Regions from separate parts of the Homo sapiens genome. Here region 1 is linked to region 2. Evidence: fine-mapped expression QTL. A gene starts in region 2. The other region holds a variant in brackets. All regions are shown on one strand. Distances are from middle to middle.

Region 1 (16,207 bases), 550 kb after region 2:
GCCACCATGCCCAGCCTCATCTTTTTAATAATAGCCATTCTAACACATGTGAGGTGATATCTCATTGTGGTTTGCATTTCCCTAATGATTAGTCACGTTGAGCATTTTTTCATATACCTTTGGCCATTCATATGTATTTTGAGAAATGTCTGTTCAGGTCCTTTGCCCATTAATTCACTGGGTTATTTGTTTTCTTGCCATTGAGTTGTTTGAGTTATATATTTTGGATATTAACTGCTTATCAGATATATGGTTTGCAAATATTTTCTCCCATTCTGTTTTTGTCTCCACTCTGTTAATTGATTCCTTTGCTGCCCAGAGGCTTTTTAGTTTGATATCATCCCATTTGTCTATTTTTGCTTTTGTTGCCTGTGCTTTCAGGGTCATTTTCAAAAATTCATTGCTCAGACCAATGTCATAGATCTTTTCCTCTATGTTTTTTCTAGTAGTTTTACAGTTTGTTTTATATTTAAGTCTTTAATCCATTTTGAGTTGATTTTTGTATATAGTGTAAGATAAGAGTCTAGTTTCATCTTCTGCATTCTCAATACCATTTATTAAAGAGAGTATCCTTTTCAAATTGTATATTCTTGGCATCTTTGTCAAAAATCAATTTGCCATAAATGTATGGGTTTATTTTGGGGGCATTATATCCTGTTCCATGTGTTGATATATCTTTTTTTTAATGGCAGTACCATGCTATTTTGATTACAGTAACTTTATAATATATTTTGAAATCAGGGAGTATGATGCCTCCAGATTTGTTATTTTGCTCAGGATTGCTTTGACTGTTTGGGGTCTTTTGTGGTTCCATGTGGACTTGAGGATTGTTTTTTCTTTTTTATAAAAAAAGACTTTGGAATTTTGATAAGGATTGCATTGATTCTGTGGATTTGGGTAGTTTGGTTACTATGGACATTTTAACAATACTAATTATTCCAATCCATGAACATGGGATATCTTTGCATTTATATGTGTTTCCTTCCATTTCTTTTTTTTTTTTTTTTTGAGATGGAGTTTCACTCTGTTACCCAGGCTGGAGTGCAGCGGCACGATCTCAGCTCACTGCAACCTCCACCTCCTGAGTTCAAGTGATTCTTCTGCCTCAGCCTCCTGAGTAGCCAGGACCACACGCATGCGCCACCATGCCCGGCTACTTTTTGTATTTTTAGTAGAGACAGGGTTTCAGCATATTAGAAAGGCTGGTCTCGAACTTCTGACCTCGTGATCCGCCCACCTGGCCCTCGCAAAGTGTTGGGATTACAGGCATGAGCCACCGTGCCCAGCCTCCTTCCATTTCTTTCATCAGTGTTTTATAGTTTTCGGTATACAGACCCTTCCCCTTCTAACAGCAAAAGCATTTGACAAAATTCAACACCTTTTCATGATAAAAATAAACACTCAACAAACTAGAAATAGAAGTATACACCCTCACCATAATAAAAAGCCATATATAAAACACCCACAGTGAACACCATACTCAATGGTGAAACATTGAAAACATTTCCTCTAATATCAGGAACAAAGCAAGGATGCTTGCTTTCACTATTTCCATTCAACATAGCACTGAACATTCTAGCCAGAGCAATTAGGCAAGAAAAAGAAATAAAAGGCATCCACACTGGAAAGGAAGAAGTAAAATCATCTCTGTTCACTGATTACATTGATCCTTTTTTTTTTAGTTGGGGTCTTACTCTATTACCCAGGCTAGAGTGCAGTGGCACAATCATGGCTCACTGCATTCTTAAACTCCTGGCCTCATGTGATTCTCCCACCCCAGCCTCCCAATTTGCTATGATTACTGTTATAAGCCACCAGGCTCAGGCCTGATATGATCTTTTATGTAGAAAATTCTAAAGGTTCCACACATCAAAAAAAAAAAACTGTTAGAATTAATAAATGATTTCAACAAAGTAGCACATACAACGTAAACACATAAAAAGTCGCATTTCTATGTGCTAACAATCTGAAAAGGAAATTTAAAAACAATTCCATTTACAATGCATTCAAAAGAATTAAATATTGGCCGGGTGCGGTAGCTTATGCCTGTAATCCCAGCACTTTGGGAGGCTGAGGCGGGTGGATCACCTGAGGTCAGGAGTTCAAGACCAGCCTGGCCAACATGGCAAAACCCTGTCTCTACTAAAAATACAAAAATTAGCCAGGCATGGTGGCAGGCGCCTGTGATCCCAGCTACTCGGGAGAATGAGGCAGGAGAATCGCTTGAACCCAGGAGGCGGAGGTTGCAGTGAGCCGAGATCGTGCCACTGCACTCCAGCCTGGGCGACAAGAGGGAAACTCCATCTCAAAAAATAAAATAAAATAAAATAAAATAAATCAAATAATTAAATAAAATAAAATATTTAGGAATTAACCAACAGGTAAACGACTTATACAATAGAAACTACAAAACATTGCTGAAAGAAATTAAAGAAGACATAAATTAATGGAAACACTTCCCATGTTTGTGGATTGGAAGAGTTAATATTGCTAAGATGTGAATACTACCCAAAGCAATCTACATATTCAATGCAATCCCTATCAAAGTCATGATGATGTTTTTCACTGACATTTCTTAAATAACCATCCTAAAATGTTTATGGTATCTCAAGGTGAGGCAGGGCAAATTCTTGGCTTCACTCAGGAAGGAATTCAAGAGCAAGCCGGGGGTAGAAGAAAACAGCTTTATTGAAGCAGTGGCAACGTCACAGCTCCGTGACTGCTCCTGCCATGCAGGGCTACCTCATAGGCAGTGTGCTGAGAGTAGCAGCCTAGGGGCACTTTTGCAGTTATATTTATACCCACTCTTAATGGTATGCTAATTAAGGGGTCGGTTATTTTAAAATAGCTCAAAAATGGGCAGTAACTTTCAGGTGTTGCCATGGCAATGGTAAACAGTCATGGCGTTAGTGGGCATGTCTTATGGAAAGGTGCCTTCAGTGTCTCTTCCCAGTTTCTTTTCTTTTGAAATGGAGCCAGGCTGGAGTGCAGTGATGAAATCTCAGCTCACTGCAACCTCCGTCTCCCAGGTTCAAGTGATTCTCCTGTCTCAGCCTCCTGAGTATCTGGGACTACAGGCGCCCGCCACCACACCTGGCTAATTTTTGTATAATTTTTTATATTTTTAGTAGAGACGGTGTTTCACCATATTGGCCAGGCTGGTCTTGAACTCCTGGCCTCAAGTGATGTACCCGGCTCGGCCTCCCAAAGTGCTGGCATTACAGGCATGAGCCACCACACACAGACTCTTCCCAGTTTCAACCAGTCTTCAACCTGGCCCACAGTCGAGTCCCACCTGCCTCCTACCTCATTCTCCCCTCAGAGATCAGATACTCCTCCTTAATCTGAAAGGGGTTGCAAAAGGGTGGAGGTCCATGTTCTGTAACTGCTCCCTGCTGAGTTCATGGGAATAGGCCCTGCATAGCACTAGAGGAGTAAAAATCTCCAGATACCTGACCCAAGGCGGCCCAAAGGCAGGATGCTTTCATTCTCTAGGTCAGAAGATGGATGGGTTAGAAACCTTGTGCCAGCATTGTCTTTACCTGGAACTGTTGTAACCTAGAAGACACAAACTTTATTAAGAGGTTAAACAAGCAGGCCGGGAGTGGTGGCTCATGCCTATAATTCCAGCACTTTGGGAGGCCGAGGTGGGCAGATCACCTGAGGTCAGGAGTTCGAGACCAGCCCATGGTGAAACAACATGGTGAAACCCCATCTCTACTAATAATTCAAAAATTAGCCAGGTGTGGTGGCTCACACCTGTAATCCCAGCTACTCAGGAGGCTGAGGCAGGAGAATCGTTTGAACCCAGGAGGGGGAGGTTGCAGTGAGCTGAGATCGTGCCATTGCACTCTAGCCTGGGCAACAAAGAGCAAAACTCCATCTCAAAAAAAAAAGAGGTTAAAAAAGCAAGGGCCAAAGATTAGTAATAACAAGACAGCTATCAAAGGTCCTAGGAGAGGTAAGAACCAAGTGAGACTTGGGAGGGGTTTTTTTTTTTTTTTTTTGAGATGAAGTCTTGCTCTTGTTGCCCAGGCTGGAGTTCAATGGCGCGATCTCAGCTCATTGCAACCTCTGCCTCCCGGGTTCAAGCAATTCTCCTGCCTCAGCCTCCCAAGTAGCTGGGATTACAGGCGCCCGCCACCACGTACGTCTAATTTTTGTATTTTTAGTAGACACAGGGATTCACCATGTTGGCCAGGCTGGTCTCGAACTCCTGACTTCAGGCAATTCACTTGCCTCGGCCTCCCAAGTGCTGGGATTACAGACATGAGCCACTGTGCCCGGCCGGGAGGGCATTTTTGATAATCGAGCAGATATAGCTGGAGTCAGTGACCCAGCATCTATGTGACCAGATAGATTGCTGATAGATCGTGTGAATGTTAATCTCAACCTGTCCAGGTTTTATTCATAACTGCACAGCCTCCACCTTGTTCAGCTAGTAAATAATCCAATGCTAGTCTCTTATCAAGAACTACATTTGCCAAAGAGTCTAGGAATCCCTGAATTCCTTTTAATGCCTGACCTGTGTTGGTGGCTAATGATTCCAGGGTTTGAGTCAGTTCTTTAGGGCCAACTCATGGTAGGCAAAGCCACCCCAGGGGGCCACTAGTTCTAATGCCACTCCAGTTCATGTCAGAATTAATCCTATTGATCATTCATTTCTGGTATTCCTCGGTCTTACAGGGTTTTATATGGTGACCCCCGGAAGGCCAAAGGGTGGCCAACATACACTCACCCCTGTTCCAAGTTTTTGATATACAAAGGAAAGCTACTCCTAAAAGAACAGGAGGTCCTCTGGGGAGTTAGGAGTGGTTATGGGATGTGACTTCTTCCCACTTATGACCACAAATGAAAACGAACCCATTTGGGGTGCAATAGAGGCCCTGTGAGGTGTGATGCCTATCTTTAGCCACTAAGTTGGGTCTGTGGAGATACAAGATATCTCCCCCCATTCCAACGGGGAGGACCAAACAACCCTGGTAGGGTTTTCTGGGTTTTGTTTGTTTTTTGCTTTTTGACAGTTGACAGAGCTAGCTGAGGCTTTATCTTGAAAAAACAAAACAAAACAAAACAAAACAGTGGAATTGTTTTGTGATGGAGGCATGGGCAAGGGAGTTACCCCACACAAGTGGGCTGTGGAGGAGGGCTGAGCCTCAAGTGGGTCTCCTGTTCCCTGCGCTTTCCTGCACAGCAGCCTCCCCCACAAGCTCTGGGGCAGCTGCAAGAGGGGGTAGGCTGGGAGGGACTGCCATAGTTGTTCGCTTGGGCAGGACATCAGAGGACTCGGACACCAGCTTCCCAACCATGGTCCTGGAGGAGCTGGTGCGGCTGAAGGAGCTGAAATCCCTGCCAGAGTCAAGGCTGGGGCCCAGGCCGTAGCTGAGGCCAGGGCTTGTGAGGCCCCGGGAGGCCGAGCTCAGCTGTCTACTTAAGCAGCTGCGGCGCCAGGTCCTGCTTGGCCGGCGCCAGGTCCTGCTTGGCCTGCTACAGGGCAGCCTCCAGCTCCACCAGCTCCCCACGCTGCTCAGCATCCGCGATGGCCTCTGAGGCCCTCAATCTCAGCATGGACCCCGCTGATGTTGCGGATCATCTCAGAGTTCTCCATCTTCCCGCGACGCAGGTCATCCCCGTGCTTCCCAGCCAGTGTCTGCAACTCCTCATCCTTGACCTGGTGCAGACTCTTAGCCTTGCCTGGCCGCAGTGGGCGATCTCCTCGTACTGGGCGTTGACCTCCGCGATGATGCCATCCACGTCCAGGGAGTGGCTGTTGTCCATGGACAGCACACAGACGTGTCCGAGATCTGGGACTGCAGCTTCCAGATCTCCTCTTCACACAGCTCTCTGGGGAAGTTGATCTTGTCAGTCAGCCCTTCCAGGTGAGACTCCAGCACTGCCTTGTTCATGTAAGCTCCATCCACATCCTTCTCGATGAAGGCAAATTCATTCCCCATCTCTGTCCGCTCGTTGATCTCATCCTGGTACTTATCGTTGAAGTCTTCCAGCAGCCCCTGCGTGTTGCCAAGATCTGCCTCCACCTTCAGCTTCTCCTGGCCCAGTGTCCAGCTGCTGCCCAAGGCTGTGGATGTGGCTCTCAAACACGCTGTCCATGTTGCTCCCAGCTGTCTTCTGCTGCTGCAGGATGCTCCACTTAGTCTCCAGCATTTGTTCTGCTGCTCCAGGAACTGCACCTTGTCGATGAAGGAGGCAAACTTGTTGAGGGTCTTGATCTGCTCCTTCTCCTGGGTATGCACAGCCTGGATATTGGGGTCCAGGTCCAGCTTAAGGGGGCTCAGCAGACTCTGGTTCACCATGATGGCTGTGTCGCCCACCCCCACCCCATACCACTGCCCCACCATAGCCACCACCCAGACTCATGCTGGTGCCTAGGCCACTCCAGAAGCTGCTGCTGCTGCCCACTTGGGAGAAGCTCAAGGAGCTGATGTGGGCACCGGGACCACTGGTGTAGGAGCGGCTGCTGAAGGCCCAGGGGCCAGAGATGGATGCCTTGTAGGGCTTCTGGGTCACCGTGATGGACACGATGGAGGCAGGAGTGGAGGTAGGCAGGCCGAACCAGATGTAGATTCAAGGATGGAGAAGCTTCCTCTAGGTCAGCCCTTGTTTTCCAGAAGGGGGCGGTAATCTCACCTTCCCAGATTAGGCAGTTGTTTTTTTCTCTGTATGTTCTGCTCTGGGAGAAGGCACTGTATATGGTCTCCTTGCTCACAAGTGGAATCTTATTTATCTTGCTGTGGCCTTGGGAACTTGGCAACTACAGTTGGGTCACAGCATTGTGGGGAAACTTCCACTTTTGTGTCATTAACACAACAGTGGTTGCAAAAGATAGAATCATTAGTGCCCTGGAGATCTAGATACACGCCTTGACAGAATCATGAGTGCCCTAGAGATCTAGATACATGCCTTGATAGAATCATGAGTGCCCTGGAGATCTAGACATACGCCTTCCCAGGTCCAGGCAATAGTGGTGGGGGATTTCAGGTAGAATCCATCAAGTGCACGACAGAAATTTCCACCTAATGGTCGGGGTCTGGGTACTTTGAGATTGCTATGGATGGTGAAGAGGGCTAGGGAGTTAGCCAAGAGAGTTTTTGGATCGGCCAGAAGGTGAAATTCTCTATCCTGGGGATGTTGATGACAAATCCAGCAACCATGAAGATGATTTCCTAAAGCTATAATTTTTGAAATATTTACTATAAAGTTTTGTTCCCACTTACACAGGATTAGGTTAATTGGGAGAGCAACAGGATTAACAGTGGCACATGGTATCCACCTGGGCCTTAGAGTGGCCTCTACACCCAACAAGGACAAGAGATGTTTCCTGGGAGGAGGTAGTTGCCCAAAGCGACAGAAAAGAAGTATTACAATCAGGAAGAAGAGAAAAATGTTCCCACCCACGGCGTCACGTTACCACTTATGGCTGAATATTGATTCTTTTAAATAGGTAGCAGAGGTCCTCCAAAGGTTCACAGATGTAGGTCGTGGTATCCTGCTTTTGTGCCTGTGACTCATAAGAAACAGGTTTAATCCTAGACAGGTGTACCCAACAAGTTATTCCCTGAAGTTTAGCAGCAGAGGGGATACTCAACAACACCTGATAGGGGCTCTGTCATTTCGGTTGTAATTGATCCTCAGGGGAATCTTTCTTTCCAAGTTTTTATTAAGACTAAGCCTCCTGGCCGGGCGCGGTGGCTCACGCCTGTAATCCCAGCACTTTGGGAGGCCAAGGCGGGCGGATCACGAGGTCAGGAGATCGAGACCATCCTGGCGAACACGGTGAAACCCCGTCTCTACTAAACACACAAAGAATTAGCCGGGCGTGGTGGCGGGCGCCTGTAGTCCCAGCTACTCGGGAGGCTGAGGCAGGAGAATTGCTTGAACCTGGGAGGCAGAGGTTGCAGTGAGCCGAGATCTCACCATTGCACTCCAACCTGGCTGACAGAGTGAGACTGCGTCTCAAAAATAAATAAATAAATATAAAAAAATCAGCCGGGCATGGTGGTGGGCGCCTGTAATCCCAGCTACTCGGGAGGCTGAGGCAGGAGAATCAGGAGAATTGCTTGAGCCCAGGAGACGGAGGTTGCAGTGAGCCGAGATTGTGCCACTGCACTCCAGCCTGGCTGACAGAGCGGACTCTGTCTCAAAAAAAAAAAAAAAAAAAAGGAGAGGAAAAAAATGCGTATTTCCTAGCTTTGTCCACTGGAAATATCTAGAAACAAAGGCTAACTCAGTAGCAATGAATACATCTAGTATCAGATTGGATTACTAAATATCATTTCCCACTGAAGGGAACCAGCGATCTTTGGAGAGATGTATAATTCCAAGTCTGGGGCAGGAAATGTACAAGATGAGCCAGGAACATCTTGTGGTACTGGAAAACAAAGATATGTATAAAAGATCACTAGGGTCATATCGAAAGATTCAGGAGATAACTTGAAGAGGCTTCCACTGGCAGAAGATGGGGAAATTTGCACCTCAGTAAGAATAATAACCACAATTATGTGAAACATAAAAGTGTTAATCCATTATTTATTATTTTTATTTATATTTATTTATTTAATATTTATTTAACATTTTTAAAAGGTCACCATTGGAATATGCTAGGGCAACAAATCATTATTTTAAGAACTGGAAAATAAAAGGATTTTTTTGAGATGCAGTCTCGCTCTGTCACCCAGGCTGGAGTGCAGTGGCTCGATCTCAGTTCACTGCAACCTCCACCTCCCGGGTTCAAGCAGTTCTCCTGCCTCAGCCTCCTGAGTAGCTGGGATTACAGGCATGCGCCACCACGCCCGGCTAATTTTTGTATTTTTTAGTAGAGATAAGGTTTCACCGTGTTGGCCAGGCTGGTCCCGAACTCCTGACCTCAAGTGATCCACCCACCTCAGCTTCCCAAAGTGCTGGGATTACAGGTGTGAGCCACTGTGCCCGGCCTAATTATTTTGTCTTTCTTATCCTCACTGTACCAACAGGCAATCAAATGGCTGATGGGGAGAGTTTTTCTTTATAGACCTATTTCAGCTAGTAAATGAAGAAGAAATGAGAGGACTTAGAATATCAGTTTTAGGCTGGGCACCATGCCTCACGCCTGTGATCCCAGCACTTTGGGAGCCCAAGGGAGGGGAGCAGATCACTTGAGGTAAGGATTTGGAGACCAGCCTGGCCAACATGGTAAAACCCCATCTCTACTAAAAATACAAAAATTAGCCTGGCATGGTGGCATGCGCCTGTAATCCCAGCTACTCAGGAGGCCAAGGCAGGAGAATTGCTTGAACCCGGGAGACAGAGGTTGAGCTGAGTGAGCCAAGATCGCGCCACCGCGCTCCAGCCTGGGCTACCAGGTGAGACTCTGTCCCAAAAATATGTGTGTGTGTGTGTGTGTGTGCGCGTACACACGCGTTTTAACCTCTAATGAATTAAAGGATCTAGGCAATGATCATCTATGGCTGCTAACCTCACAAAAAGAGGGAAAAACACAAAACCACCCATGAAGTAGTCTTGCCCTCTCCCCTCCCCAAAGAATCGAATTAAGCTTCTAGATGTAATTACAGAAAATACAGGTATAGATTACCTTGACACTATAGGAATGCAATTACTAATATCCAGACTACAGGAAACTTGCAAAACCAAAAACATAAAAATAAAAAATAAGATCCAACATCTACTCCCAATTTTTAAAAGCTCTTAGTAGTACAGCTTTAATGAGACATATATAACAAGTCAAAAGGCAGTTTCATGATTATTGGTGAAACAGCAGAAGCACTCCCGTGAAAGTTTCAGGAAAAAGACAATGTTGTCCTCTGATACCAGTAACATTTGAGAGACTGTTCTGCAAGTACTGGCCAAGGCAATTAGAAAAGAAAACAAATTACAAGGTGTAATGAAAAAAAAAAAACAAAAAACAAAAAACAAAAAGAAGATGTAATGGTGAGGTAAAAATTATTATTTGAAAGAGAGGTGACTAATTCTGGGGATCTTAAAATAAAATAAAAATCATTAGGAACAAAATAATTCAGTCGATATCTAGTTTAAAAATGGACATATAAAAATCAACAGGTTTGCTATAGACAAGGGGTCTGAAAACTATGGCCTGTGGTTCAAATCCAACCCCTTGTCTGTTTCTGCAAAGATTTACTGGAACACAACAACGCTCATTCATTTATGTATTGTCTATGACTGCTTTCATGCTATAACGGTGAAGTTGAGTAGCTGCGACAGAAGCCATAAAGTCCACAAAACCTAAAATATTTACTATTTGACCCCTTACAGAAAAAGTTTGCCAACCCCTGCTATAGATTAAAAAGAAAATCAGTTAGAAAATAAAATGAAAAAAATAAAAGCCCCAATTTTGGTTTTTAGAGAAAGGGTCTCCCTCCGTAACCCAGGCTGGTGTGCAGTGGTGCAATCGTGACTCGAACGGCAGCCTCAAACTCCTTGGCTTAAGTGATCTTCCCACCTTAGCTTCTTGAGTAGCTGGGACTACAGGCACATGCCACTGTGCCCCACTCATGTTTAAAAAAATTTTTTTCTTTGTAGGAACGGAGTCTTGCTATGTTTCCCAGGCCGGTCTCAAACTCCTGGCTTCAAGCAATCCTCCCCCATCTTGGCCTCCTAAAGCACTGGAATTACAGGTGTGAATCATCATGCCCAGCCCCTCAGTTCTTAATAGAAACAATTATTAATATAAGCTAAGAAGAAATAAACTTTACAATATGTATTAATAGCTATTATATATGAACAAAACCTCACAACTGTACAGATATCCAAGGAGATGTGAATAAATTGAATTATGTCTTTCCTGATAGAAAACTAAAGCAAGCCTTTTTCTAAATTAATCTGCCACTCTAGTGAAAGAGCACCAGGAATACATCTGCAGTTGAACAAATTGGGTATATTACTCCTGCACTCTGGGGAATTTCAATAAGAGGGTGCTAGAAAGGACTTATAGGAGGATTTGTGCCCATGTTCAGTGATTTCAGTCAGGGTTTAGGGAAGCCAGGCTTCTCTCTGGCTTGGATGCTGTCAGAGGTGGGGGTATGTCTATGACGGACTATCTTAATGAGTCTTGCCCAGAAGGAGAGAAGATTAGTTGGAGGCTAATGCTGTAATTGGTAAGGAAACAACAGTCACTCTCTTATGGGAGAAAGAGGGATGTTTCATGCCTTTTGTGGTTTGGACAGTGTTCACCTTTGCCAGCATTCAGATGTGACGATGGAGTGGTTCTGTTTCTGTCTTGCTCCCTCACGGTCACAGAGTGACCTTGTCCGATGCTGATGTTCTCTGAAATTGTTTATATTCAACAGAATACCAAGGCCAGCTCCCAGATGTGCAGGGATGTATAAATTAAACGCAATTTAAATCTAAATTTCCAGTTTTGTGTTTGTTTTATGTGAGAACTTGAAAAAATATATCTAAGTTGGGTGTCTGAACAAATAAACATTAGAGAAGAGCTGAGAAACCAAAGAGAGAAAATTGTGAAATCTAAAAGACTGAAAAGTGTTGATAAATTTGACTACAAAAAATTAGTCTTTGTCCTGGGTGCAGTGGCTCACGCCTGTAATTCCAGCGTGATTTGGGAGGCCAAGGTGGGCAGATCACTTGAGTCCAGGAGTTCAAGACCAGCCTGGGCAACATGGCAAAACTCCACCTCTACCAAAAATACAAAAATTAGCTGCGTGGTGGCGCAGGCCTGTGGTTCCAGCTACACAGGAAGCTGAGGATGGGGGATGGATTAAGCCTGGGAGGTCGAGGCTGCAGTGAGCCAATCAAACCACTGCACTCCAGCCTAGGCGAGTGAGACCTTGTCTAAAAGA[C/T]CAAACAACCACAAAAATAAGTCCTTGTCCAGCAAAAATCACCTTTACACAGGTTTGCAAGACAGACCACAGATAAAACATTTTCAATGCATTTAAGAAAAGGGTTGATGTCCCTAATAAACTAAAAATGAATAACCTACCTACTAATCAATATAAAAAGAGTACTTTTCAGAATCGTTTTAGATTTTTACAACGACATGTGCCATTAAAAACAATAAAAGAAAAAAACCCGGCTGGGGGCGGTGTCTCACGCCTGTAATCCAAGTACTTCAGAAGGCCGAGGCTGGAGGATCGCCTGAGGTCAGGAGTTCGAGACCAGCCTGGCCAACATGGCGAAACCCAGTCTCTACTAAAAATACAAAAATTAGGTGGGCATGGTGGTGTGCGCCTGTAATCCCAGCTACTCCGGAGGCTGAGGCAGGAGAATCGCTTGAACCCGGGAGGCGGAGGTTGCAGTGAGCTGAGACCGTGCCTGGCACTCCAGCCTGGGCGACAAAACGAGACTCTGTCAAAAAAAAATAATAATAAATAAGAAAAAGAAAGAAAGAGGGAAGGACGGGAAGGAAGGGAAGGGAAGGGGGGAAGGAAGGGAGGCAGGGAGGAGGGGGAGGGGGGAGGGGGAAGGAGGGGGGAGGGGGAAGGAGAGGGGGAGAGGGGAGGGAGGAAAGAGGGGAGGGGGGAAGGAAGGAAGGAAAAAAACAAAACACAACTGGAAAACCCTAGGACTTGAACCCAGGGAAAGCGTTAGGGGGTAAGGGGACTACACTTCCCGTGAAGCTCCGCGGCGGCTTCCCGTGAGGCCCCGCGGAGGCTTCCTGAGAGGTCCTGCGCGCTTTCCGCGCCAGCTTCAGTGTCAGCTCGCGAGCCCTGGCGTCGCGTAGGAGGGAGGATGGAGAGCGGCGACGAAGCGGCCATCGAGAGGCACCGCGTCCACTTGCGCTCCGCCACATTGCGCGACGCCGTACCCGCCACACTGCATCTGCTGCCCTGCGAGGTTGCGGTGGACGGGCCCGCCCCGGTGGGGCGCTTCTTCACGCCCGCCATCCGCCAGGGCCCCGAGGGTGAGCCCTGCGGCCGGACTACGGCTCCCGGCAGCCCCCGCGCCGGCCTGCGCGCTTCTCATCGCCTGGGCTCCTGGGGATCGTGGTCCGTCCGGAGGTGGCGGGAGGGCAGCTCCGGGCTCGACCCAGCGTGGGTCCTGCCTGAGGCCCTTTGCGCCTCCCGCTCCAGGACTCGAAGTGTCGTTTCGGGGCCGCTGTCTACGGGGAGAGGAGGTGGCGGTGCCGCCTGGCCTCGTGGGATACGTGATGGTGACAGAAGAGAAGAAGGTGTCGATGGGGAAGCCAGACCCCTTGCGGGATTCCGGGACTGACGACCAAGAGGAGGAGCCGCTGGAGCGGGACTTCGTGAGCAAAGGGATAGGGTTGAAAGGGGGTGCGGGCGGGAGCTGTAGTCCCGATGCTGAGCCAGGCCCCTTCCCCAGGACCGCTTCATTGGAGCCACTGCCAACTTCAGCCGCTTCACCCTGTGGGGTCTGGAGACCATCCCTGGCCCGGATGCCAAAGTGCGTGGGGCCTTAACTTGGCCCAGCCTTGCGGCAGCGGTGAGTAGACGAGGAGTTCCGTCTTGCCCCCGGGTGGATGGGCTGGGGAGCACAATTGCGCAGACGGAGCCTGGAGGATTCTACTGGGTAGTGTGTGGGAAGCGTAGCTCCCTGACCACTCTTCCTAGCATGTCTAGAAGCGGTTATTCTGAACAGCTGGGTCCTTCCTCGGGTATGGGGGCCAGCTTGCCGCCCTGTCTTACAAGTCCAACAGTAGAGGCGACTCCTGTTGCAGATTCACGCACAGGTGCCCGAGGACTGAGAACCAGAGCTTGAAATTCAAAGCTGCGATCCCTTCACAGCAGTAAACCAGCTCTTTGGAACCGATTCCATCACCCCAATAAAGGAGCTCTTCACAGCACCTGTGAGTCTGGGCGCCTTAGAGCCCCTAAGCCAGCATGGGCCCTTTCCCCCTCCCCACCAAGAACTTTGCATGGCTCTGGCATATAGAAACAATTTATTGCCGGGGGCAATAGGGGTAAGAGAAGCCAGAAATTTTTGCAGCCAGCACCCACCCCACCCCCAACTTCTACTTTACAAAAGAAATTTTTACAATCACCAGCCCTCTGTACAGAGCTCCCCCATCCGGATCCCTTCTCACTGTACACAGCTGCCTGGCTCCCTCTGGTCCCTGCTTCAGAGGAGGCCTGGGCCTGTGGCCAGCTGACCTTGGAGTTGGTCTGAGCCCGGAGCTCGCCTTGGTGCTGGGCACCAGTGGGCCCCTGCCAGGCCTGTCCTCTCCTTTTTGAGCTGTCCTCAGCCCCATCTCCCTTAGAGTGCTTTGTGGGAGCTGCAGTGGGGGCGGGGTGGGCTATCAGCCCCAGTCCTGCTGCCGTCTTGGCACTGCAGTGGGCAGTGTCTGGTCACCACTTCCCCCTCTTGCTCCAGTCCTTGGGAGTGAAGTGCAGACACTTGGAGTCGATCCGCAGGAGCCGCTTGAGCATGGCCCGCTCATGGCCATCCACGATGTCCTCTGACAGTGTGAGGATGTACTGGCCCTGGGCAGAGGAGATGGGTTCAGCAGGTGGTCAGCCCACAGAGGACTGCACTCTGCATCCCACACACCTGTCTCCCCTGCCTGCCTCCCTACCTTGTAGTAGTTGATGAGATTGAGGTACTGCAGAGTGGAGATGACATCCTCCTTCTTGATGCTGGTGATTTCACTAATCTCACTGTGGGAGAGCACAGGTCAGGTTCCCTGAGGACCTTTATCTGTCCCCAGGAGCCCTGAGAGAGAAAGCCCAGGAACAGACAAGCCATGCCATGTACCCCCAGGTAGACAGCGCCAGGCTCACTTGATGGTGATCTGTGGCCTCTCCCCGCTCTCCGACTTCAGCCCCATCAGGATCTCCAGGATGGTCTGGGACCAGTAGCTTCGATAGGATAGGAGGCCAAGGTCTGAGAGGGGCTTCTCAGGGGTCCCTGTTTTCCCTTCCACTTTGGAGAGTTCATAGCCTAAAGCAATGGAGCAGGAGAGGGTGAGTAAGAGGTCACAGATGAACATAAGCAACATTTAAAAACACAGGTTGCCAAGGCAGGCTGCCTAGTTCCTATCATGGCCCTGCCACTTGGCAGTTCTATGCCCTCCACTTCTCTGTGCCTCAGTTCCCTCAGGAAGAACTGAGTATTCACTCTTTCCGTGCGCTGAGCACAGTGGAGGGCATGAGGGCACTGAGAGGAGCAGCTGCAGTCAACCATGAGGGTGATCAGAGGCCAGTGAAGGCTTATGGGCAGGGGATGCAGAGAAAATGGCTCATGGGAAGAAGGGGCCTCCAATTTTCCTTTGCCATCCCGGGCTCTGTGTCTAGCCATGTAAGGAAGTGGAGACAGATTCCTGTCTCTAATCCAGACCTGAGAATGCTTGAATTCTCAAAGTCCTCCTAGCTGGGACCTTGGGAGTGTCACCTGCTGTAAGACTTGAGTGGCCTGACTGGGTGGTTGTGAGGATGCAAGGAGAAAAGGTGCACCAAGGTGCTTCCTAAGTCGGGGAGACCATTCCTGGGAGCCACGTGACTGACCCCCACCATGGCTCTTTCCCTCCAACTCGTGCTGATAGCTGGCCGCTGGGAGGCCGTCCCCAGTGAGATCCTCAGACCCTGCACAGCCCTGAGTGGCTTCACATCTCTTGGTCAGTGTCTTCATTCTCCCCAGTCAGGGACCTGGGATGTTTGTTACTTCTAGAAGCCCTTCCTCACCCTCATAATGGACCTTAGCCCCTTGCTGGTCCCACTCACATCCCGTCTCCATTGCTGTCTGAGTTCCAAGACTGAGTTTCTTCAAGCATCCACTTGTGCTACCAGGCTGAGAAGTTCTGAGGATGTGACCCCATCTGGGCATCATTTAACCAATAAAATTTCTCGAATGGACCATAACCTTGATCAGGTAAAGCCTCTGTGTCTTCACCAGGTCAACAGCTAGAACTTCCTCCTTGTTTCTCAGGTCAGAGCTTGGTTATTCCAAGTGAGTGGTGAGACAGACAGAATGGGGGGTGATGGGGAGTAAGAGGCTGGGAAGAAGGGGCCTCAGGGTTGGGGAGGGCACTGAAGAGCCCATGTGTGATGAAGTTCAGAGTCCCTTCTGGCTTTAAGAGACTGACCTCACTGGACACAAGGAGCGAGGGACAACATGCTTATGTCTATCTGCTGACAGCATTTTGGATACCTGCCTGCAAGGCTCAGGGGACAACTGGGGACATTAGCCACTGGTCCTTGCCCCAGTACTCGTATCATGGCACACGTTACCAGATACATCAGCACCAGCGGCTCACTAACCT
Region 2 (8,997 bases):
GGCGACATAGAAAATAGGTCCAAGAGACAAGGTGGGCTGAGGTTGGGGCAGATGGAGACAGGGCTGGAGAAAGAGCCTGGGGGAGAGGGGAGGGCAGACTAGGGGTGGGGCTGCCCCCCTGCTGAGCCTGCTCATTCCCGGTGCGGGTACCCCCCCACCTGCAGGGGGAGCCTCAGGGTGGGGGTGGAGGGGGATGGCCCAGAATTTCCAGGGTCAAGCTCTGCCCCTTGGCAGGGCCCAAGTTTCCCCCGAAATGGACAAGGCCGGAGGTCCTGCCCCTTCCAGGAATGACTGCCATGCCCACAGGCTGGCAGAGGAGCCCCTGCCCCTGTTTAGAGCTCTGCCCAGCCGCTCTAGTCCAAGGGGGAGGGCTCTGAAGGCGGGGTGGGGGGGGTTCCCCGCAGCAGCAGTTTGGGGGTTGGAGAGGCTGGGGGCACCAGTGCCCCCTCCCTCCCCAGGGCTGAGGCCTCTGCGGCCAAGGGGCAGGGCTGGGGGTGCACAGGCGTCCGGTCCGTTCTGGGCTCGCTCCCTGGCCGGCTTCCCCCTTAGAAACTCACCAACGTATAAACCATACTGTAGGAAGATGAGCCAGTGAGCCTAGCCCTGCACACACACAGCCACCCAGATGCCCACCTGGTCACACCCTGGGCTGCCCTCAGTCCTCAGGGGCAAAAGGCAGGAACTTGGGATTGGAAGCGTGATGCTGGGACATCCCTTCCCTGAGTTCTGACTGCTGTGGGCAAGGCCTCACCTGTACAGGTAATAGAAGAAGGAGAGCAGGTAGAAGGCAAGTTTGCACCAGGACTCCTTCTGGCAGTAGTTGAGAATGTCAGCATTCATGATGGAGACCGCATCATACATGACCTCAGAGCCATCTGCAGGACGGTGGAAGTACCTGGGGCAGACAGGGGCCTGAGTGTCTGCCATCAGGACTCCCACCCCCATCCTGCCCCTGTTCCCCATCTCAGCCTCCCCAAGGCAGCTGCTACCCTCACCTCCAGAGGTGGTAGAAGAGGAGGGGGATGTTGAGGCCCAGGGTCACCCACTCTGCTGCACACAGAAACATCAGACAGAAGAGGCCGTGGATGGAGTATTCTGGGACCACCAGCTGGGGGAGTGAGGGTGAGAGGTCAGCGGCCTGGTGCTATGACAGACCAGCCTTCAAGGGGACAGAGAGGAGCTGGGGTTTGGGAGGTGCCCACCCACCGTGACCTCTGGGGATTAAAAGGCCTCTGGCTTCCCACTCCCTCCCAAGTAGAGTGGATCAAACAGGCCCAAAGCAGGGGAAGGCCTGGTTCTGGGCCACAGACAGTGGGGGCAGCGCTGGGCTAGGAGCCTCCTGCCCCCAGCCCTGACACTGACCTTCCTCAGGAGGCAGCAGATGCGTTCGATGTTTTTTAAACGCTCGCGCTGTTGGGGGAAGGAAAAGGCCGCGATGGGGTGGCGGAGAAGCAGGTACTGGAGCAGCTCCCACCGCTCCACATGTGGCCGCCAGGGGGCGCCAGAGCGATCTCTGCGGCACTGTCGGCACGGCCGGGAAGCAGCCGCGCCGTCCCCATGGCGACCGTCACCATGGAAGGGCCTTCACCCGCGTCTCCATGGCAACGGCCCAGAGCCTGGCAACCACCGCCCCGCCAAGAGGAACTCAGCCCTGAGCCCGCGCCAGGTGTTTGCTGGGGGCGGAGACAGAGAGGAAGGGGGCATGGCCGTAGGCCCCCCACCCCACCCCCGTCTTCCCGTCTCCCACCCCCAGCCCACGACAGATGGAAAGACAGACGGACGGACACACCTCGGCACAGCACATGTATCACTTACTGCCCGCGCAGGGTTCCCCTGGTCGATGGGGTTCTTGAAGTCGGTCCGCAGCTCATCAAAGGCTATGATCTGGGGGAGGGGCGTGTGCCCGTCAGGGTTGGGGCAGCAGCTTATGGCCTTCCCCCAAGTCCTTCTGTGGGATAGTTTACTGAAGAGGACCAGCCAGGTGGAGCTTGTTGCAAAGGTGGAGAAACCGAGGTCCAGGGAGGAGCAGGGCCTGGTCCAAGGTCATTACAACAGTCCAGAAGGGAACCCTAGCGTCTGGATGCCCAGTTCAGGCCCATGTCCACTACACCCCCTTCCAAAACATCCCAAGACATGGCTTCGTGTCTGCCCTGCCAAGTCTCAGGCCCTGTGCTGAGCACTGGGGCTCCAGAGGCCTGGGATGCAGCCCCTGCCCAGGAGGAACCCAGGCCCAGAGGGATGATCACTCTGCCTTCCAGGTGATCAGGGTTTGGGGTACAGGGAGGACCTGGAGTGGGCGCTTAACCCTGTGTGGGGGGTGAGGGAGTTCAGGCTGGACTCGGAGTAGGTGTTGGTGAGCAAATGGGGGAAATGCAGTCCAAGCAGTAGAAGGTGCAATGGCAGAGGGGTGAAAGGTCAGGAGACATTCAGGAGGCTGCGGGTTTCATGGGGCTGGCGTGACAGCGCAGCGAGCAGGAAGAAAAGAGAGAGTGGTGGAAGAGGAGCTGGAGAATTCAGCAGAGCCAGACATGGGCGCCCTGTGAGGCCAGAGCAGGAGTTTGGACTTACTTTAACACAAAAATTTTGGGGGGAGGCATTGAAGAGTACACAGCAGCAGAGTGGGGTGGTCAGGTCCATGTCTTAGGATTGGTCCATGTCTCAGGATTGGTGGGGCAGGAAATCCGAGCTCACTGACAGTCACAGCTGAGATCTAAGTGGTGCTTCTCCTGGCCGGTATGTGGATTCACTCATTTAATTCTTAACAACCTTATGACTTAGGTACTAGTTTTATTTTCATGTCTGTTTTGCAGATGAGGAAGCTGAGGCAGGTTAAGTGACTTGTCCAGGGCCACACGGCTGGTTAGTGGATTCTAACCCAGTGTGACTCCAGAGTTAAAATTCCTAACCACTGTGTCATACTCAGGCCAGACCAGCAAGGGGACGGTTTGGAGGGTTAGGGGCAGGGCTGATGGTGGTCTGAGTGAGGAGAGTTGTAGTGGAGACGGAAGGCGTGCATGGGATTCTACAGCTCTTTAGGAGCCAGACTCCAGAGGGTTCAAATGGCTGAGAAGTGAAGGCAGAAATCTAAGGTGGCTTCAGGTGTTGGGGTGTCTGGCAGACGGCAGTGTCCTCACGGGTGGAAACTCTCCAGGGGAGCAAGTGTTTGAGGGGATGATGGGATGGGAAGGAGCTGACAGGTGACTTGGGGGAAATGGGCTGGCAGAGGAGCCTGCTGGGGTCCCCTCCTGTCGGCTCCAGCCCTAGGATGAGGCAGCAGGCCCACCACCCCCAGGCATCCCAGGCCCCAGACGGCTCAGAGAGAAAGAACATGGGCTTCCTGGAGGGAGCTGAGGCCATCTGGATCATCCCCCCTCCCCGCCCAGCTCCCCATTGACTCTGGGCAGCGCCACTTGGCACGCACAGCAACAGGGTCCACAGGGAGCAGAAGGGTGCCGTCTGTACCCCAGAGCTGGCACCACCAGCAGGCGGCGGGCGTCACCCCTCCCACCCCCCAGGCTGCCTGGCGCTGACTCAGCCCCCCGGAACAAACAATCCCCCATGGTGACAGCTGACACGCGTCACTCACCGCCAGGGTTGCCTAGGAACCACTGGGGCCTGGGCTGAGGGTCTGGAGTGGGATCTGGGGTCCCGCCCTGTTAAGAGTCTAGTTCTTAGCAGCTGTGGACTGAGGACCACGCCTCCTATCCCCTACCACCCAGCAGGCCGCACTAGGCACTCTGATGTGCACAGGTCCACTTTGCCGGCGAGGAACCAGACTTGGGACAAATGACTTGCTAAGATTGTCCAGCTAAATGGCTGAGTGGACAGAGTACCTCACACAGGTGCTCAATCAATATCTGTTGAATGAACAAAGACATTTCTTCAAAGCTTGGGCCTTTCCTCCCAGCCTGGGCACTCCACAAGGGCAAAGTCTGGGTTTTATTCATCCTTGACCCCCTCAAAGCCACCCAGAGCCTGATCTTTGGGAAGCATCAATGCAGGCGTGGTGGATAAACTGCTGAGGATCCCCTGAGGACAGGGACCCCACAGGGGCTGTGGGAAGGCCCTGGGTGGGGAAGGCCCCAAAAAGAGGCTTCTTGAATTCCAGGAGCCCTTCTCCCAGGAGCTGGTCAGCTCTGCATTCCCTAGCCTGTGGCCCCCAGCTCCCTCCAGTCCTTAGAACCCTAGCCCTCCTGCCCCTACCCCACAGAAAGAAAAATAGAGTAACTCGGGGTGCGGGGGAGAGGGGGAAAGACAAAGCAACCAAGACCCAGAGAGAGAGCAGAGCCAGGCCAAGGAGTGACAGGGCTGGAGCTGGGGTGTGTGCTGAGGTGCCTTTGGGGGCTCACTCTTCACACAGTAGGGGTTCAGTCTATGGATTCCCGATGTCAAAGAGCAAGGTGGCAGGGGATGGCAAAGGGAGCGCAGGGGGAACCATGGAGCAGGCGGCAGGTCCCAGGAAGAGAAAGGAGAGAGGAAGTGGAGAGCCCGGGAAAGAAGCAGGTGAGGCACCGGGAGGAAGGAGGGAAGGGCTATGGGAAATGGGATTGAGGGAGGGATAAGAGGACCCCTGAAAGGGAATGACAATCAGGGAGGTGTGCGCGGGAGGTGTGAGCAGAGGATGCTGAGCTGAGCCAGCCAGGGCCGAGCTGGGCAGGCTGTTACAGAAACAGGCACGGGGTTTGGGTGGGGGTGGGGACGGAGGGCAGTAAAGTGGGGCCAGGGGCCCCCAACAACCAGCTGGAGGCTGATTGATAGTTCTGTAGTGAGGGGACGGGAGCCAGGCAGAGGAGGCCCTGGAGGAGAGGAGCGGGAGGGGAGGAGGAGGGAGCCTGGGGGAAGCGATGGGTCGGATGCAGGATGAGGAATGGACATTTTGAAGAACCAGGTGTGAGGCTAGGCCAGGGCGAGGGACAGACCAAGGGGTATGTGAGAGACAAAGGGGAAGGGGGACAGGAAGAGGAGGGAAGCTGGAAAATGGAGAGGAAACCTGGGGGGCTGGGAAGCCCCCAACAGGAGGGGTAGGGAAACCCAAGGTGAGCCGGTGGTGGGGGCTAGGTCTCTGGGGGCTGATGAGAGCCAACTGCTGCTTGGTCAGGGAGGGGGCTGGGAAGGCAAAGGGTTAATGGACTCTGAGATCTGTGGGTCCTGTAAACAGATGCAGTTGCCATAGCAACCAGCTCCATCACTCTGGCTGGAAAAACCCACAAAGGCGGGGGGGGGGGGGCAGCAGACAGACAAACTGCCCGACGGACTAATGGAGGCGGCTGGATGGTGGTGGGGGGGGACATAGAAGATAAAGCAACAAAAATGCCAGAATTCCACCCCCCACCTCACGGGCTGCATGGGAGCAGAGGACGAGGGCAGAGGAGGGGGTCAGAGACCGACTGACATACACACAGACAGGCGGGGGCGGCGGAGGAAGGGGGGCCCCGGGAAGAAAGCCGACCACGGGGGGTGTTAATGGGGGCGAAGCCGACAAGCCGACGGCTGGGGGATAGCAAGTTTCCCCTGGGCTCTGAGACCACCCGCCCTGGGTCCCTCCAGCTCCGCGTGGCCCCTGCCCCCCACCCCGCCCCCAGCCCCAGCCCCAGCCCGGCCTTACGTGCCAGATGACAAAGAAGATGAGGGAGGCGCACAGCACCAGGGTGAGCATGTAGCAGAACGCGGCGAAGGTGAACGCCATGGCCCCCGCGCCGGGCGGCGGCCCGGGGGGCGCCAGCGCGGGGCCCGGGCGCAAGGGGACGCCCCCCGGCCCGCGCTTAGGGCCGGCCGGGCATGGCCCGTGGGGCTCGGGGGACGTGGGTGATGCGGCCGGGACCGGGACCGCGGGGCCGTGGGGGGCGCGGGGCGCGGGCCGGTGGGCTCGGGGGGCGCGTCCGCTGCCGGCTGCCCGGGCCCCGATCGCTCATCCTGCGATCCCTCGCCCGCGGCTCCCTCGCTCTCCAGCCCGCGAAGCCGGCGGGGCGGAGCCGGGGGCGGGGCCGCCGCGCGAGCGGCCTCGGGCGGGGCTGGGTCTCCGCGGGCCCCTCGTCTGCCCGCCCGGCTCGGGCGCCACCCCCAGCCCCGACAAGCCCGCGGCCGTTCACCCTCCGGACAGCGTAGACGCGGCCGCCCCCGGCACCCCGCACCCCTCGGCACTCCAGCCACCGGCACAGCCGCACTCGGCCCCCTCGGGCGGGCGCTCAGGGCAAAGGCTGAAGTGCGAGGCACTTGTCACTGTCGGAGACGGCAGAAGCACCTGGCTGGGACACACAATGACGCCAGGACAGGGGCTGAATGGGAGCAGTGGGGTTTTGGGGGGCGCTGAAGGAGGTTGGGCCAGGTGCAGTGGGGGCCCTCTCAGCGGCTGCGCGACCCCACACCTCTGCCGTGTGCCCCGCGGGAGTTGGCGGCGGCACGCCAGGTATGAGCTGATGGCCGCCTGCCTCTTTCCCTGACAGAACGGTGCTGGGCCCTTGGGGACAGACCACAGAAGCACAAGCAGCTTTCCTGGCCTCAGGAAACGGGGTCAAGGGCTTTTGCCAGCAGCCTTAGGACACAGAAACCAAGCCAGGACCCCCGTGCACCCCACCAAGCCCAGGGTTCCAGTTCCATCCCCCCACCCCAAGGCTGGGCTTAGACCACAGACCACACTTGGCCACCACAACTTCCTTGCAAAAACCCTCAGCTCACCCGAGGGCCAATGGAAATTTATTAATTTTTTTTGTCCTTTTCCATCTTTCCCCAAGTGGCTTTTCCTTGCAAAATGCCTGACATGACACCAGAGGGGAACCTGGGAGCGGGGGGCACCCCAAGGGGGCAGCCCAGGGACTTAAATACAAGCTGGAGGGCAGGGCACAGGTGGGACAGGCAAGAGACAGCACGAGGGACATGGCTTCTCAGGGAGACCAAAGACTTGCTTTCTTGCAGGAAGCAGCTGTGCCAGAGGGCAGGGGACTAGGATCCTGGGTGCAGAGTGGGTGAGCAGAGAGGCCCCCAATCCTGGATGGAACCCACATTCCCCAGAGAAGTAGCGGCAGGGGATGAGGGCCTTCCCTGGTGGGCTCCAGAGACGGAGTGGGGAGTGAGCCAGATGTGCTACCTTGGGGAAAGGGAGGAGGTGCTAGCAGAGTGAGGGTTAAGGCTGGTGCCCAGCCTCTGGCACGGTGGGCCTTCCGCCTCCGCCTGACATGGGGACAAAGGGGCACGGTGGGCAGGCAGCGCATGGGTCTGTCTCTGGCAGGGCAGAGGGCGGCAGGAGCAGACTCCCTCCAGGCTCAAGACACAGGCCCAGCACTGCTACCCGCCCACCCGCCCTAGATATACTCAGATCCCACCGCAGCTGGACGGCTCGAGCTGGGAGTGTAGGAAGGGAGAGGAGGCAGTGGGGAGAGGAAAGGGTGGGCTGCTGGGCCCCTGTGGCCTCCATGCCTGTCCTGAGGTCCAGCCCAGGGCCCTGGATCCCAGGTCCTGGATCCCCTGGCCACATTCCTCGCCCTGGGCACTGACTGCAGCCAGGGCAGTAGAGGCCGGGGAGACCCTCAGTTCTTGGGCAGGACAGCAGGAAGAAGAAGGAGAGAACCCAGTGCAGCATACATGGGGGTGGGAGGGACACCGACAGAAGAGCCCTCGTTCCAAAGAAAGGTGTGTAGGGGGGCATCTTGGAAAGTCACCTAGAGGCAACAGCACAGCAGGCCTCCGCCCTGCCTGGCCACAGGCCCTGAGTGTCCTCCCTTAGGGACCCTGACAGAACCGGGGCTCAGGGCAGCAGGCAGATGGGCCAGAAGGAGATGGGGAGCCCAGGACACCCCAAAGCCACAGACTCAAATGCCCCAGGAGAGGGAGAGGGAGGTACCTCCTGCCCCCTCCAGGGACATCATCTGGAGAAGGTGCCCCCTCCTGTCCCACTCCATGTGCCCCTCCTAGCAACAGCCACCGCCAGCCGGCTTTACAGGGGTGCTGTCGATCTTGAGATTGGGCCGCTCGCCCCCAGAGGCTGCTCCAGGCCCCATCCGCTTTTTGATTTCAGCAGCCATGGTCATGAACGCCTGCTCGACATTGGTGGCATTCTTGGCGCTCGTCTCCAAGAAGGGGATGCCCAGAGAGTCTGCAAACTCCTGACAAGGGAGAGGAGAGAAGAGGAGGGGAGAGAAGAGGAGGGGAGAGCAGGTGAGGGGCAGCAGGCCCCAGCGCCCCGACCCCGGGCAGACCGGCCCGTCTGCTACCTTGGCTGTGGTGTTGTCCACCACCTTCTTGGTGGTGAGGTCGCTCTTGTTGCCCACCAGGAGCTTATTGACGTTCTCGCTGGCATAGCGGTCAATCTCCTGCAGCCACTGCTTCACGTTGGCGTAGGATTCCTAAAGGGGGCCAGGGGCCAAAGTTATTTTGCTCCCAACTGTCACCCCTACCCCAGGCCTGGAGAAGACCTTCTCTGAGGGGAACAGTACAGCTCCGGGCCCCTTAAGTCCTGGGCTCAGCGATGCAGAGATGCAGAGGAAGCCCTCTGCTCCAGGCTGAACCTTCCTCCCTGCCCTCTTCCATCCGAGACCCAGAACAGCCCCAGCAGCCTGCCAGCTGCCCCAACACCTCAACAGCTGCCCCAACTTGGGCCTGCCAGCTCTGCTCCCTGCAGCTGTCTCTCTCCCTGAGACACTTGCAGGCCCTAACCACATGTGAGAAGCAAAGAGAGAGCGGACGGGAGATAGGAACAGAGAGTAACGGGTCCGCAAGAGCCACAGTTCCCACCGTGGCCTGAAAATCCCTTTAAGGTTTGAAGCCTTGGAGCACAGGAGTTCGAGGGTCCTCTCAGAGGTGGCCCTGGCCTGTGGGGAGACAGGAATCCTGGGAACAGCCTAAAATTCATCCTACTTTTGGCACCAACAGCCTCATTACTTGGCTTCAGACTCTCCCAGCACTTGCGCCCCTACCCCACACACAAAGGACAGGACTTTCAGGAAAGTGCTCAAGCTAGGGCCACTTATACTCCTTAGGAGCCAGAAGCCTGGTCATATCACA

What was found. PIP is the estimated chance that this variant, and not a neighbour inherited with it, causes the effect.
Region 1: its variant is fine-mapped to the expression of CNIH2 in whole blood (TOPMed, PIP above 0.99).

The regions. Positions count from the first base shown.
Region 1 is chr11:65,717,272-65,733,478 of GRCh38, reverse strand. KAT5 (lysine acetyltransferase 5) reads right to left here. Exons shown (of 13, transcript NM_182710.3): 11 at 14,730-14,889; 12 at 14,525-14,606; 13 at 13,875-14,432. The coding sequence ends at 14,298. RNASEH2C (ribonuclease H2 subunit C) reads left to right here and starts at 12,681. Exons shown (of 4, transcript NM_032193.4): 1 at 12,681-12,892; 2 at 13,062-13,237; 3 at 13,315-13,434; 4 at 13,670-15,806. The coding sequence starts at 12,721. The coding sequence ends at 13,696. It also overlaps the pseudogene KRT8P26. RefSeq lists an enhancer at 12,536-12,605 and a silencer at 12,756-12,995. The variant C/T (reference allele first, on the strand shown) is at 11,832.
Region 2 is chr11:66,275,146-66,284,142 of GRCh38, reverse strand. CNIH2 (cornichon family AMPA receptor auxiliary protein 2) reads right to left here and starts at 5,968. Exons shown (of 6, transcript NM_182553.3): 1 at 5,606-5,968; 2 at 1,816-1,884; 3 at 1,363-1,410; 4 at 996-1,108; 5 at 752-895; 6 at 1-573. The coding sequence starts at 5,686. The coding sequence ends at 546. It overlaps RAB1B (RAB1B, member RAS oncogene family), which reads right to left. Exons shown (of 6, transcript NM_030981.3): 5 at 8,208-8,339; 6 at 6,651-8,099. The coding sequence ends at 7,905. It overlaps LOC107984340 (a long non-coding RNA gene), which reads left to right and starts at 5,618. Exons shown (of 2, transcript XR_001748274.1): 1 at 5,618-5,648. RefSeq lists an enhancer at 1,194-1,697 and a silencer at 5,863-6,192.